2 separate regions of the Homo sapiens genome follow, and region 2 is linked to region 1. Evidence: fine-mapped expression QTL. Tissue or cell type: whole blood. Region 1 holds a variant in brackets; the other region holds the start of a gene. All regions are shown on one strand. Distances are from middle to middle.

Region 1 (8,108 bases):
CAGACTAATACAAGTGTTAACTTTTATGTTATATGTATTTTGCCATAATTTAAAGAAAAAAGAATAAAAGAGTATGTGGTGAGATGTGAAAACTAAACAGAGAAAAATGTCTCCTGGGAAGAAACACAATCCTACTGCACCATGGGCACTGCCAAACACCCTGTTTTTTTCCAGTGGTGGTGGAGAGAGGGCACTTGGTCACCAAACATGCAATGAGCACCCACAGTGATGAGCTGGCAGGTGACCTGGAGGATGCAAAGAAACAGATGACAGAGCTCCTGCCTGCAAGCAGGGCATCCTACAAGAAAGGAAGATAGACACAAAGGTCCACAGCACAAATAAAGAGATGAGTGTAGGCATGAGGTAAGATCACAATGGCTACAGTCTTTTACAATCATTCAAATGTTATTTCTTTTTACCTGATTAGCTTATTCCATGAAAGGTCAAGGACAGCATCGGTATGCCCTTCTGCTGAGGAACTCTGTAATAATTGTTTTAATTATTTTTTGTATTAAAGTCCCCCTCATAATAAAACTGAATATATTAATCTGCAAAATTCTTTAAACCTTAAGATTATTTTGTTTTGTTTTGTTTTGAGACGGAGTCTTTGTCTGTTGCCCTGGCTAGAGTGCAGTTGCACGATCTCAGCTCACTGCAACCTCCACCTCCTGGATTCAAGCGATTCTCCTGCCTCAGCCTCTCAAGTAGCTGGGATTACACGCGCATGCCACCATGCCCAGCTAATTTTTATATTTTTTGTGGAGACAGGGTTTTGCCACGTTGGCCAGGGTGGTCAGGAACTCCTGACCTCATGATCCACTCTCGGCCTCCCAAAGTGTTGGGATTACAGGTGTGAGCTACTGCACCCGACCTATTGTTTTGATATTATATAAACTTTTGAAGAATAAAATAAATAAAACCTTGTCTCCCTGTTAGAGACTCATGATTAATTTCATTACAGGGGCTGGGTGCAGCGGCCCACACTGTAATCCCAGGACCTTGGGAAGCTAACGTGGGAACATCGCTTGAGGCCGGGAGTTCGAGACCAGCCCAGGCAACATAGCGAAACTCTGTCTTTACAAAAAAGTCAAAACTTAGCCAGGCATGGCAGCATACGCCTATAGTCCCAGCTACTCAGGAAGCTGAGGCAGGAGAATCCCAGGATCTCTTGAGCCTAGGCGTTTCAGGCTGCAGTGAACTATAATCGTGCCACTGCACTCCAGTCTTGGGAGACAGAGCAAGACCTTACCTCTTTAAAAAAGAAAAATAAAGAAAAAAATTTCATTACAAGGAACAGGGAAGAAACTATAGTAGTTTATTTTTTTAGAGACAAAATCTCGCTCTGTCACCCAGGTTGGAGTGCAGTGGCACACAATCATGGCTCACTGCAACCTCAACCTCCTGGGCTCAAGCACTCCTCCCACCTTGGCCTCCCAAAGTGCTAGGACTATAGGCGTGAGCTACTATGACTGGCCTAGCAGTTCTTTTTTTTCCCTTGAGACAGAGTCTCGCTCTGTCACACAGGCTGGAGTGCAGTGGTGTGAGCTCACTGCAACCTCTGCCTCCCAGGTTCAAGTGATTCTCCTGCCTCAGCCTCCCAAGTAGCTGGGATTACAGGAACACACCAACATGCCTGGCTAATTTTTGTATATTTAGTAGAGACAGGGTTTCACCATGTTGGCCAGGCTGGTCTCGAACTCCTGACCTCAGGTGATCCACCCGCCTCAGCCTCCTAAACTGCTGGGATTACAGGAGTGAGCCACGTGCGTGGCCTGGCCTAGCAGTTCTTAATCTAGGTACTGTAATTATACAAGTATCAATATAGCTCCCAACCCTCATAAAACCTAACGATTTTAAAAGCTGCAGGAGTTAATACATGGATAATTAGAATTCAACATGATAACAGAAATTTTTTTAAAGTTCAAGGTTGGTATATCTGTATAAATAGCTACTGTATTTGGAGGAGGCTCATAATCCGAAAGTCCTTCATCTATAGTAGCTATTCATATTAATATACTAGCTTTGAACTAGTTTTGTGTAAGAAAGAACAACATGATAATGGAGGTTTTATGTAATCAGAAATAAGTTTTCTTTGGATGGCCTTTTCAAAACTAAAAATTACAATAATTTCATAACTACCTACCCCATCTCACCAAGAATACCTGATTGAAAAAGTGTACGGTCTTACCCTTCACCCCTACTCCCGAGTAAACTTACCTCTGTCATTAGAGTTTAAATATTTATTAACTTCTTTACCTTCTTTCCTTTCTTTTTCTTCTTTTTTGAAAGTTTACTTCCGAGTGTGAAGACTGGCTCTAAAGAGTCCACTATATCAAGGTCCCACACTTCAATAACAGGGGTCATGTTTCCTACAGCAATGTAATTTCCTATGGGAGGAAACAATGCATGTATGATTACACAAAAAAAGACATACAGAACTTCTAATCAAATACATTATACTGTAGATTAACTGAAAAATGCTTTAGAGCAGTGCTTCTCAAACTTATATGCATATGCGGCATCTGAATGTTACAAATGCAGATTGTATTTCAGGTGGTTCTGGGTGGGCATTTCTAACTAGGTCACAGGTGATAACCATGCTGTGCTGCTGCTGGTCTTTGGGCCACAATTTGAGTAGGAAAGGCTCAATCTCTTGGCCCCAGTGTTTTCATTTATATAACGAGAATAACCCTCCTCCCGTCCTCCTTCATGGGGTGCTGTGGGGATGAAGATCAGATCAGATCATGAATGTGAACAAGGTGTGCAAACAAGACGTAAGACAGTATAAACAGTGTTTACCTTTATTAAAAAGTACGGACAGGGGCAACTAATAGTGTGCAGATGTGGTTACAAAGACTAACATGAAAACCTAATTACTTGTGACAAGCCTCTTCATTTCGGTTTTAGCTTATGTTTTCTAAAACAGGTTATGCCACTGAACTCTAGCTGGTAACATCTCACATATCAGGCCATTTATACTGAGTCTTTATGGGACCTTTACAGTTCTACAGTCCAAAAGGCTTCAGGCCCTGTCCTTCAGCCTGTAGTAGAGCAGCTACCTCCTTAGCCTACCTGAAGTCTGGGGATTTATGAACCCCAAACAATAAAGTGATGGTGTGTTAAGAACTCTATAACTTCATAAAATAACAGTAACTTCAGAAAATATCAGCAACAATTCTGAAAACATTCAAGAGAATACATAATTTATGGAGCTAGGAGAAAATACATAAGACTGGAAATCATTGAACAACCTTAAGTTTTCTAATTACCAGTAGAATCATCTGGGCTAGGATCAAAATTCAGCCATTCCACACTCAGAGGATATGCAGACAAGAGTATATCATGGTGTACATAAAAAGAGTCTTCTTCTTGATTATAAACTGAAAAGATTGGGAAAAGAGACTTTAATGTATCAGAATGAGTCATCAAAAATCACATCCCGCTCAAAAAAACAAATTCTATTAAATGTACGTGAGCCATGTGCTTTAAAGTGAGACATCTGATATTATAAAGAGATTCCAGGCTGGGCGCAGTGGCTCGTGCCTGTAATCCCAATACTTTGGGAGGCCAAGGTGGGCGGATCACTTGAGGTCAGGAGTTCGAGACCAGCCTGGCCAACACAATGAAACCTCGTCTCTACTCAAAATACAAAAATTAGCTGGGTGTGGTGGTACGTGCCTGTAGTCCCAGCTACTAGGGAGGCTGAGGCAGGAGAATAGCTTGAACCTGGGAGGTGGAGGTTGCAGTGAGCTGAGATCGCACCACTGCACTCCAGCCTGGGCGACATAGTGAGACTCTATCTCAAAAAAAAAAAAAAAAAAAAAGATTCCAATATCATGACTAGGCAAAAATTCTGCATGTCTAATACAGTGCCATCTTGTGGCATACCCCACAGGAGAAAATGAACACTGACATCTGATAGTCCACCTGCATCCTTGTCAGATAAATGGTCCTGTCTTCTAGGTCATTCATAGAAAACAAATGTTCATAAGTTCATAATGTTCATAACTACAAGAAGTAGTTATTATTTTATCTTTTAATGGTCTAGCTGATTATAAGTCAAAAAGAACAAACCAAAAATAGCATGGGAGAGAAATAATTCATATTTGGAAATCTAAATGCTTATCAAAAAT[T/C]ACTCTTAATATTTTTAAAAAAGGTTTATGAAGATGAACAATGTAAACAAAGCTCCTGAGGACATACTTTTGGAATATGGCAACAGCTCCTTAATATTCACAGCTGTAATGTTAAGCAGCAAAAACATTGTAAAATCAATGAGTAAGAAGTCTTTTAAAAATTACACAGTGAAACACTGATAAAACAGAACCCACTAGTCAGAACCCCTCCCCATATGCTTTGTATTAAGAAGGAGGTAAATATATAATAAATTAAGGATTTTATTTTTAATTCCTCAGATTGCTGCTTCTGGAATAGATCCTGGGATTAGCAGATTTGTGTAATGCTCTATCACATCCCTGTGATGAGAATTCATGTTCAAAATTATTAGACTGTGGTTCTACAAAAACCTCAACCATGTTCGATATACTCAGCTTACATTTTACATAAAATTGGTAATAACTTTTTTTTTTTTGAGATGGAGTCTTGCTCTGTCGCCCAGGCTGGAGTGCAGTGACACGATCTCAGCCCACTGCAAGCCCTGCCTCCCAGGTTCACGCCATTCTCCTGCCTCAGCCTCCCGAGTAGCTGGGACTACAGGCGCCCGCCACCACGCCTGGCTGATTTTTTTTTTTTTTTTTGTATTTTTAGTAGAGACTGGGTTTTACCGTGTTAGCCAGGATGGTCTCGATCTCCTGAACTCGTGATCCGCCCGCCTTGGCCTCCCAAATTGCTGGGATTACAAGCATGAGTCACTACGCCCAGCAACTGGTAATAATACTTTAAAATATACTCTTAACCACGTGAGATCAATATTCGGATCAGTTTTAGAATATAAATTTGAAGTTATTCTTGCACACACATACTGGGCAATTTGGAGATTCCTTCCAAACCCAAATAATAAAGTATATCTATAATAACCTAACTGAGAAGGAAATGGAAATATAACAGCTTTAACTTCTTTCTCAGCTCCTCTTTGATCCTGAGTTCAAAGGAATGACTGTTAAGTTCTCAGGTAAGAATGCATAAAAAAATCGATGATGACAAAAAAAACTCTAATAGGTTCTCAATTTTTTGAAATTAGAATTGGTCTTAAAAGCAAAGTAAACAAATGGTTTTCATTTGAAATATGTAAAAGTTCAAAGATATCAAGAGTTAGAAAGAATAATTTCACATTAAAGTGCCTGCTATGCATAAACAGATCACAATGAGCCATGAGATAAAATGGGCCTAATCTATAGGCTTCCCACGGACAGCCTTAAAGATTCTGAAGAGGTAACAGAAATCCAAGCTAATCAATGGAAGCCATGATGAAGCAACCTAGAAGATGGCGATAAACATTAAGCCTAAGGGTTTTATTTTTTCAAGCTGTGCAACTGTGTTTCCTATAACAAAAGGACTTATCAGCCTAATAATCTCTTCGAATCTTCAAAGTTTCAAGACGATCTGAAGACTGCTGGGGGAGGAGAGTATCGGGCAAGGATGGACTTGTCTGAGGATATGAGCGCAGTGGAAGGGACAAGAAAAACAAAACGGAGAATCTGTAGGCAGAGTGCGCCAGACATTGTGCAAGTCTACTTTTAGCATATAAAAAACAGATTTTACATTAAAAACACCAAAGTGAGGCAAGCCATTCAATTAATATTAAATCAAAAACAACATTTAAAAATACAATTTAAAAATTCCTATTTTCATGCCTACTTCTGATTACTGCAAAGCATCCGCTTCTGGCTTTGATACAAATATTCCTTAAGTAAGAAAGGTGATCACGATGTTTTGGTTCCAAAAAAGAAACGTGGCCCTTTGTGTTGAATTATTAGGAAGAAAATAAAATGTTTTGCAAAGGGGAAATATCTGAAATAACTCTATTTAAAAAACATGAGAAAAACCTGTCTATCCAGTATAATCCACATAAAGAAAAAGTAGCCAGAAAAAAAAATTGAGTAAAAAACCAAGGTGGCAAGTTATTAACTCAGGGAAATGGGATTATACATTTTTTTCTCCCCTAGAGATGGGGTCTTTGTCACCCAGGCTGGAGTACAGTGGAGCAAACAGAATCACAGCTCACTGTAGCCTAGAACTCATGGGCTCGAGCAATCCTCCCACCTCAGCCTCCCAAAGTACTGGGATTACAGGTGTGAGACACCGCACCCAGCCTTGTATTTTTATATATAATTTTACTTCCAGGTTTTTTATAGCAGGAGTAGGAGAGGAGTGAAAAACAGGCAATCACATTTAAATAAAAGATTAAAAACCTCTATGAGGCCAGGTGTGGTGGCTCACACCTGTAATCCAGCACCCAGCACTTTGGGAGGCCAAATCAGGATTACGTCAGCCCAGGAGTTCGAGACAGCCTGGGCAACACAGTGAGACCCTGTTTATATATAAAAACAAAAAAAAACACCCCTATGAAAAATTTCCAGGGGATTTATTTCCATAGAAAATTCAGATACCAAAGTGATGTACTGGACTACACATACCCAGAACAATAACCAAGAAATTGGCCACCTGTGTAAAAGTTAACTATGTAACCAACTTAAATGAGATACAATAGGATCTGGCACCTAAAAATGAAATGGTAACTATTTCACTTATTATTTTACCATCACTTAGAAAATCTTTTAATAAGGGATTTATCACTTACCATGCACCTCTAAATTGCACTGGTCCTGTTCAGCTCGGCCACAAACTATAAGATTATCACTGGGCTTAATCAAGAAATCTTCACGTTCATATTGTTCCTAAGTGAGAGGAAAAAAATGTCATTGACTAGAAGCAGAGAGCCAGTAAGGTTTTTTGAACACTTAAGAGCATAATTAGAAAAAAGATGTAAATACTTACTGTATCTTTCAGAGTAACGTAAGGATCTTGATCATTACTCCCGTAGACCGTAAGACCCAAGAGAGATTCACCAAGAGTCTCAGCATCTGTAAGAAAAATTGACAAACTACAATAATAAAATAGTCATCTTGACAAAAACATATTTCCTATGACATCCATTCTTGGACTTAGATGCAATCATCTATTTTATAACTAACTCTGGATCATCTAGAGTTGGGAAAGGAAACTACGTAAGCAGCAGCAGGAATTTAAAAGCCATTTTTGTATTTGACCTTTGGAATGGATTTCAGACAGTCTTGGAATTCACAATCTTCCAATGAAAGAACTGTATCAGGGAATTAGACCCTTTTAGAAAATATGAGAACTCTCTTGAGATTCTCTAGCTAGCTCCCTGCATTCATGATTGAAGGTGATACGGAGAGGCAGCCTTGAGGACCTGGAAATAAAATGACCCTGAAACACTGAAATCAACATAATAAATAAGGGTTGCCTGGTCAAATAAAATTGAGAAATGACAGGTTTCAAAAAATTAACCAGGTTGCTCTACTGCACGTGTTCTGATATGCTAATATGCCTTATTGGCATATGAAAAAAGAAATGCAGTATGCTTTTTCCACTGAACTTAAATTATTCTTTTATGGCACATCTACGATGGTAACAAAGGATAACTCAGGAAAAGGAAGATACACTGAATTGTTAGAGGAAGCCACTTTAAGGAGGCAGGACTGATAGGTCTTAAACATCTGATATGCAACAGAGAAAGCAATTTCTGCTACACGAGAAAGAGCTGATTCTGAATGCCATCTCTCCAGGCTGGGTTATTTGTTTCTCTGTATTTCTATGGCACTCTGTCCCTAACAAGGTTGGAGCCCATAACCCAGAGTCCAATAGAAAAAACTATCCTCTGCTGGACTGTATCTATAGAAAAGATGCAGTGAAAAGAATGAAGGCTTTAGAGCCCGAGAGTGGTCAAAACTCAGCACCGTCTTTCACCAGCTGTGTGCCGCTGGTAAATGGAGGTAATGATTCCTTTCTAAGTACTGCAGATAATGAAAAATGAAGTTAATAGTAATCCATAGGACAGATGGCCAAGCGAATGAGGAAAACGGAGGAATGAACATCTAGATGGAAAAATGGATAAATGACAATAAAAA
Region 2 (8,108 bases), 65 kb before region 1:
GTCTGGAGTATTCAGTACAGTAACATGCTGTGCAGGTTTGTAGCCTAGGAGCTATAGGCCATACCATCTAGCCTAGGGGTGTAGTAGGTTAGACCATCTAGGTATATGTAAGGGCACTCTATGATGTTTGCACAACCACAGAATCACCTAAGGTTGCATTCCTCAGAACATATCCTCATTGTTCTGCCACACCGACGCTCTTCATTTCTACCTGTGTGATTGGCCAGTTTCTCCCATTTTTGTTGTTGTTGTTGTTTGAGGAAGTGTCTTGCCCTGTCGCCCAGGCCAGAGTGCAGTGGCTGTGGCCTGATCACAGCTCACTGCAGTATCAACCTCCCAGGCTCAAAGTATCCTTCTACCTCAGCCTCCCAAGTAGCTGGGACCACAGGCATGTACCATCATACCGGGCTGATTTTTGTAAAGACAAGGTTTCATCATGTTGCTCAGGCTGATCTTGAACTCCTGGACTCAAGAAATCCACCAGACTTGGCTTCCCAAAGTGCTAGGATTACCGGTGTGAGCCACTGTGTCTGGCCTTTCCATTGTCTTTATTGTCTTAACAGCACCATGGAGTCTCCTTAAAGGGGTAAGTCACCCTAAATCAGCAGTTAAGGCAATCTTTGAGCAAACATTTGCTGTACATCTCCAAGTAAATAGATATATGAGTCAATATGTGTGGCTTCAAATTATGCCAGTTTGACTTTCCCTCAGGCATCAGAAATTCATTGAATATCTAATATATGCCAGGTATAGTGCTATGTTGTATAGCATTAAATAAGATAGACATGAATCTTCTCCCCAAAATTTAAAATGTATTTGGCAAAATAGAAAATTAAACAATTAATTACAATAAAGATAGGTACTATGAGAGAGCATACAGTGGGCCTAGTCTGGGGAGTAGAGTCAGAACACTTCAATTTTTGTTAATCTTGACATAATTTTTTAATTGAATTTTTGAGGTATTTTTACATACAATAAAATTCACCAATGTCAAGTTTACTATTTGATTAATTTGGACAGATGTATACAATTGTGTAACCTCTACCACAATCAAGACCATTTTCATCACTCCTAAAAGTTCTCTTATGCCCCCACTGTAGGCAATCTCATCCCCCAACCCATTCCCAACTTCTGACAATCACTTCTCTGCTTTCTATTACTACAGTTTTGCCTTTTCTAGAATTTCTCATACCTGGACTCATAATATGTAGTCTATTGTGTCTGGTTCCTTTCACTTAGCATAATACGTCTTTGAGATCCATCCATGTATCAACAGCTTGTTCCTTTTTATTTCTGAGTATTCCACTGTATAGATACTGTACACTATCATTATTCATTTACCAGTTGATGGACATTTGGGTCATTTCCTGTTCTGGCCTATGACAGATAACGCAGCTATGGACATTGGCGTACAAGTCTTTGTACATATGTTTTTATTTTTCTTTGGTAAATACCTAAGGAGTGTGGAGAATTGGATGGTATAAGAGGTATAAGAAATTGCTGGCCAGGCATGGTTGCTCATGCCTGTAATCCCAGCACTTTGGGAGGCTAAGGCAGGTGGATCACTTGAGGTCAGGAGTTCGCAACCGGCTTGGCCAACATGGTGAAACCCCATCTCTACTAAAAATACAAAAGTTCGCCAGGCATGCTGGTGAGCACCTGTAATCCCAGCTACTGGGGAAGCTGAGGCAGGAGAATCACTTGAACCCAGCAGGCAGAGGCTGCAGTGAGCTGAGACCACAGCACAGCACTCCAGCCTGGGTGACAGTGAAACTCTGTCTAAAAAAAAAAAGAGAGAAAGAAAAAAGAAAGAAATTCTAAAATGGCTGTGGCATTTTTTTTGCATTCCCACCAACAAAATGTGAGGGTGCCAGTTGCTCCATATCTGTGCCAACACTTGTTATAGTTGGTCTTTTTAATTGAAGCCATTCTAGTAAGTGTGTAATATCACTTCATTGTGCTTTGATTTGCATTTCTTTGATACCTAATGATGCTGCACATCTTTTTGTGTGCTTAATCGCCATCCATATAGCTTCTTTGGTGAAATGGCTGTTGAAATTTTTGCCTAAGTTTTTAAATTTAATTGTCTTCTTATTATTGTGTTTAAAGGGTTCTTTATATAGTCAAGATACAAATCCTTTGTCAGATATTTGTTTTGAAAATATTTTCTCCCAGTCTCTCACTTGACTCATTTTGTTGACAGTATCTTTTCAAGATCAACCATTTTAATTTTGATGAAGTTCGATTTGTCATTTTTTTTTTTGAGATAGGGTCTCTCTCTGTCACCTGAGCTGGAGTGCAGTGGCACAATCTTAGCTCATTGCAACCTCATACTCCTGGGCACAAGCTATCCTCCTGTCTCAGCCTCCCAAGTAGCTGGGGCTACACGTGCATACCACCATGCCCAGCTAATTTTTTTTATTTTTTGTAGAGACAGGGTCTCACTTTGTTGCCCAGGATGGTCTCAAACTCCTGGGCTCAAGCGATCCTCCTACCTCAGCTTCCCAAAGTGCTGAGGAGAGAGCCACTGCACTTGCTCCAATTTTTTAATAGTTTGTGATTTTTTTGTCCTATCAAGGTCACAAAGATTTTTGCCTTTATTTTCCTCTGTAAGTATTATGGTTTTAGCTCTTACATTTATGTGACCTGATTTTTATGTTCACCTCTCAACTTAATAAAATTGTTCCAAAAGAACAGACATCCAAACCCAAACCTAGTGAAAGCATTCGGCCGGTAATAAGATACATCATCATTCTCTAGGCTCCAGATTTGAAGTGGCATTTCAGGGAATACTGTCTCTCAGTTGAGATGATGACCTTCTTGATTTAGATTTCTATTTGTTGTCAACAGAGAGCAAAACCAATGTGACCTGCCTGCCAATGTTCAGTGAAGTTTCCTCATCTGGAATGTGCTTTCCCCCCATGAGAAGTAAACGAAGGGAAACATTATGGGGGTTGACACCCCTCCCAGCTCTCGTCCAAAAGGTTGCATGTGCCTCTACCCTTTCACATTAGACTGAATTTTCAAAATTCATCAGTTCCCACTAGACTGCAGGCAGGTGAAGGTCAGGGCTTGTGCCTTGCTCTGTATCCCTAGGTTTGAGATGTAATTCAACAGACGCTTTGTGAATGACAGGAAGAATTCCTGGGTCTGCTGTTCTGCTGGTGTAAGGGAGCCACCAGGCAGTGTGGTGTAATTTCAACGTCTACTGCTCAGGAGCTTGGGACCACCTTCCTTTAAAGCCATCTCGGTACTCCTAGCGTTAGGCACAGTGCCTGGCGCGCAGTAGAGAACTGAGGGCAGAGAAAAGGGGAAGGAAATTTTGTTTAAAATCCCAAACCCCAGCATTTACGACGGGAAGCAGGGAAACTGGGCAGCCTTCAGGTGTAGCAGACGGCCGAAAATATTCAGGATAGAATCCCAATTCCTCCTGGGCAGCAGAGGCAACCCTCGGGGCCAAATCCCATACTTCGAATTTTGGGGGCTTTGTGTGGACCCATGCTTCTCTAGTAGGGGAATGTCATGAAGACGAAATCCTGAGTCTGCGGGATTTAGGGGATTCAAAACTCAATCCCTGCAGGAACAGCAGCCCTGGTCGCCTAGCAACCATGGGCCGATCGCTCGGCGCTCGATTCTACCCGGCCGGATGGAGACGCGGAACTCCCGGCCGAGCCTCTCGCGGCCAGTGCCTCTGCCGTGCGCACGCGCGGAGGGGCCTGGGCTGGGAGAAGGGCGACGCGGTGCGCGGGCGCCGCTTGCGGGCCGCGGCGGGGAGGGCGCACGCACGAGGGGCGGAGCGGCGGGCGCTGAGAGTGGCTGAGGATCCGGAAACGCGCCGCAGAGGGTGCGGCCCAGAGGAGGCCGCGGGCCGGGAAGGGCCGGGCGGGACGGGAAACGTTAGGGCAGCGGCCCCCGGGGTGAGGGGGCCGAGCGGACGGGCAGGGCCCCGAGGCGAACTCTGCCCGGATGAGGAACAAAGCAGTGGGGCAGGCGCGTGCGCCCCCAGCGCAGCTGGCAGGTGGGCTGCGCGCGGGCCCGGCCGGAGCGGGGCGGGGCGCGGCGGCCCGGCCTGCGGGCCGCGGGCGGGCTAATCCACAGCCCTTGGGTGGCGGTGTCGGCAGCGCCTGGGGCTTTCGGGTAGCTGGGATGGGGGCTGCGACCTTGTTGTGGTTTTGGTGACCGCTCTTGTCCCCACTCCCCCAGGTTGGGCAGCCCCCTTCCCGAAGCTTCTGGACGGAAGGCCCCAGGTGTTCCCCGAGATGCCCCAACCCGTGGCGGGGTGCACGGCCACCGGCCCTCGGGAGAAGTTGGGCGGCCCCGGGCGACCCCGGGGACGAGTGGCCGCGTCGGTGCAGCGGTTGTGAGCAAGATGTGGTAGCACGTGACCCTGGAACGCAAACCCTGATGCCTGTTCCCCACCACCCGAGCGCTCCTTTCTCTGATATTTGGCCCCAAGCCGATGCATCACAGGTGAGTAGGGAGGTGGGCTTCAGCACTGGTGACATCGTTGGAAACTCTGGCGAGTGAGTGTCCAGGGTCAGTGCCGTTGTTTTTGGTGCCATTGAGAAGGTTACAGGTGTGATTTGCAAAGGAAACAAATCCAGAAACTAGTGTTGGGTGGAATGTAATCTCATGCATCCTAATTTACTCCACATGTGGAAAGTTGTTCCCAGTAGCCACACGTTTATTGTTGGCTTGTTGACACCTTTTCCTGTGTCTTTCAGTTATTTGAGCGTTTAATATATTTTTCCGGATTCCAACGTGTATTGTTATCTTATTATGCTTCACCTTGAGTTTTGCTGGTATGGCAGGGACGATAGTGAGGGAATTAAGTTCTTAATTCTGCAAGCTTCATGCTGATGTTTAAGTACAGAAGCAGGCCACAGAAATTGTTGCATTTGGCTGTTTTTTCAAGGCCCTTTCAAAGGCCGTATGTTTAGAATAAGGAAGATAAGGCACAAATTCATTGAAATTATTGAAGCCCCACTGCATTTTTCAAAGTGGCTGCATTTCAGTTAGTTTATTATATTTTATGCGAAGAAAAAGGTGTAAAATCAGCAACTGGCAGATGGTTGCATAGGTCAGTTAGAAACACACACATAAACTGTAGAACTGTGTAGGAAATTATTTTACCCTAAATGAGTAGGGAAGATAGAGCTTAGTATCTTGATTCTTGCCTTCTTCCGGGATTGCTTCTTAGAATCTCATAGGAGAAAGAAAATGAGAATAGAACTGCATTTTAGAATGAGAAAGTCTTATGAGGATCATATTGTACATTCCCTTCATCTGCCTTCTCTCTGTGGGATACTCATTACCTTTGGTTTATGGCTGCTGAGGTCATCACGTTTTAGTGACTCACAACAAAGCAGAAATCTGCTGAGCCTCTCGCATTAAACTCTGGTTTGAACTGGTTTGAGAAGGCCTAGGAGTCAACCTAGAAACACCATGCTGATTTTTATCTTGAAATTAAATAAATATTCAGGAATTTTCAGAATGAGAGTTGAAGGTGCAGACTTGTAGTTGTACTTTTAAAAAAATATTGTAACCAATTTGTTAAGTAGGCTGTTACAGCTGTAGTGATTGTAGTGTTTTAATTATGGTTGTAGCTATAAAGAGTTAGGGAAAAGTCTGTTTTAAACCAACTCAAGCCCAGCAACTTTCAAAATTAAGGTAGATATGTTTTCTTTAGGCTACAGGGATTTTTTGCTTTTTTTGTTTTTAAGACACAGTCTCACTCTGTCACCCCAGCTGGCGTGTAGAGGTACAGGCAGAGCTCACTGTAGCCCCGACCTCCCCACTTCAGCCTCCCCTGTAGTTGGAACCACAAGCACGAACCACCATGCCTGGCTAAGTTAAAAAAAATGTTTAGTAGAGACAGGGGTCTCACTGTGTTGCCTAGGGACGTCTCCAAGTCCTGGGCTCAAGCGATCCTTCTGCCTTGGCCTCCCAAAGTGTGGGATTACAGGTGTAAATCACCACACCTGGGCTGCTTTATTTTATAGCATAATAAAAACTGTTATTAGCATGCTGTTCTTCATAAGGTGTACCTCATTTGCCAGGTGCTTCTAGCTGTCTTTCTGGTAAGGGTGATGAGTTTGCATAGCTCCATCCGATAAAATAAGAAAATTCAGAATGTCTGTTCTATACAAGGTACTAGGTTGGCCTTTTACATTTTATTGATGTCTTAGAGCTTAGTTTTATGGGATCCATGGCCAGGGATAAGGGTGAAACCTAATAATGCAAGAAACAGGTCTATGTGGAACTTTAAATATACGCCACAATATAAGTAGATAGGCCCTAATGTATTGCAACTGTGTAAAAGGCAATATAGTTCTTTTATTGTAATTGTCTTTTTCTTACTATAGTTAAGAGCTTTGGTTTCTTAAATTAGTTCTGAATTTAAATCCCAGCTCTCCTTACTGGTTATGTGATTCTGGGTTAAGTTTCCTAGCATCATTGAATCTTAAGTTTCCTCATCTTTAAAGTGGGATTAAGAATAATACCTACCTCCAGCCTGGGCAACATAGGGAGACCCCATCTCTGCAAAATAAAAACAAATTAGCCAGGCATGGTGGCACTTGCCTGTGGTCCCAGCTGCTTGGGGGCTGAGGTGGGAAGATCTCATGAGCCTAGGAGGTAGAGGCAGCAGTCAGCTGTGATCACGCCACTGCACTCCAGCTTGCAGCTACTGAGCAAGACCCTGTCTCAAAAACAAAAAAAAAAAAAAAAAAAAAAAGAAGATTAAGAGAGATAGTTACATATAAATCACTTAGCCCAATACATAGCACATGGTAAGGGAGCCATAAATTTTAGCTATTATTATTTTCAGGTTGATTGATAAAATGGCATTGCCATTTTTCAGAATTAAAAACCTATTTAGATTTGATTTCACTGCTAAGGAATATGTAACCTCATTTGATTCCTCTTCTCTGCTTCACCCCCTCCCATACGCAGAGAATAAAGCCCAGTGTAAGGACTGGAGGTCATTAGAGAGCCCCTTTTGGGTAACCTGTTGGCTAGCCTAGTGGTTCTGTAATGTTTATAGTATGGCAGTCTCTAAATTATGATATAAGAACTAATACTTTTTGATAACAACCTTCAGTGCTGTTTTATTCAAATCAGTATTACTCTTATTCGAAAGACATTTGTAATGGCAGTGCAAGATGGTTTGCATAGAAAAGGTGATTCCTAGGTTCTTCACCTTGCCAAAAATAGTCTGTAGTTAAAAAAAAAGTTTGGTGCAGTTAAAAAAAAGTTTGGTGCAATGAAAAACTTTTTGGCAGTGTTTTGCAGTTTGATCTGTGATCTTTCACTTAATAGCTATGTGATTTGGGGCATATGACATGGCCTCTCTGAGCCATAGTTCCCTCATCTATCTTACGTTGCAGTATTGGTGTGAGGATTTGAAGTCATTTTAAGTGAAGTGGTAGCAAAGCTTACATAATGACCCTCAATATTTGGAGGACATTAATATACTGATACAGAATCTTAGTAAACTGTTGCTGAATGGGGAAAATACGATGCTTTTCACATCATCGATAATCTGGATCTTTAACTCCTATTAAAAATGATTAGTAAAATTTACTTGAGTAGGTTAAAATGCGCTGCCTAAAACACTACTGGTTTGAAATAATAAGCCATTTGGAGAAAAATAAATATTATAAAAGATGAAGCTTGAGTGATTTAAAAAAAAACTGTCATTGCCATTGTGCTCTAAGAATTGCAGACTTTGCTTTAGATGGTGTGCCTAGAGTTTCGAACAAGGCAGAATTCAAATCCTATTTCTGCTATGTGACATTGAATTGAGTTTTTAATGTCTCAATCTCAGTTTTCTTATCAGTAGAAAGAATATGGCACTAGCTATCTAAGAGAATTGTTGAGCGTAAAAGTGAACTAATAGTTGGCCAAGTCCCATTTCCCCATCCCCACTGTTTCAGTTTCTTCAGTATCTTAATACAGAGTCATTGGAGTAAATTTTTGCATAACTAGTTGTGTGTGCTCTTTTCTAGGATGAATGAAATGAACCTGAGTCCAGTGGGGATGGAGCAGCTGACTTCATCCTCTGTGAGCAATGCCTTGCCAGTCTCAGGAAGTCACCTGGGATTGGC

The links. PIP is the estimated chance that this variant, and not a neighbour inherited with it, causes the effect.
Region 2: it holds the start of PRDM4, and the variant in region 1 is fine-mapped to the expression of PRDM4 in whole blood (INTERVAL, PIP above 0.99).

Annotation. Positions count from the first base shown.
Region 1 is chr12:107,691,746-107,699,853 of GRCh38, reverse strand. It overlaps PWP1 (PWP1 homolog, endonuclein), which reads right to left. Exons shown (of 15, transcript NM_007062.3): 4 at 6,955-7,040; 5 at 6,758-6,854; 6 at 3,270-3,380; 7 at 2,257-2,387; 8 at 420-481. Among named protein-coding and RNA genes, the nearest start is that of PWP1, 10 kb to the right of the region's middle. The variant T/C (reference allele first, on the strand shown) is at 4,134.
Region 2 is chr12:107,756,867-107,764,974 of GRCh38, reverse strand. It overlaps PRDM4 (PR/SET domain 4), which reads left to right and starts at 3,838. Exons shown (of 12, transcript NM_012406.4): 1 at 3,838-4,018; 2 at 4,204-4,470; 3 at 8,010-8,108. The coding sequence starts at 4,460. PRDM4-AS1 (PRDM4 antisense RNA 1) reads right to left here. Exons shown (of 5, transcript NR_120474.1): 4 at 6,583-6,700; 5 at 5,007-5,203. RefSeq lists silencers at 3,548-4,127, 4,178-4,287.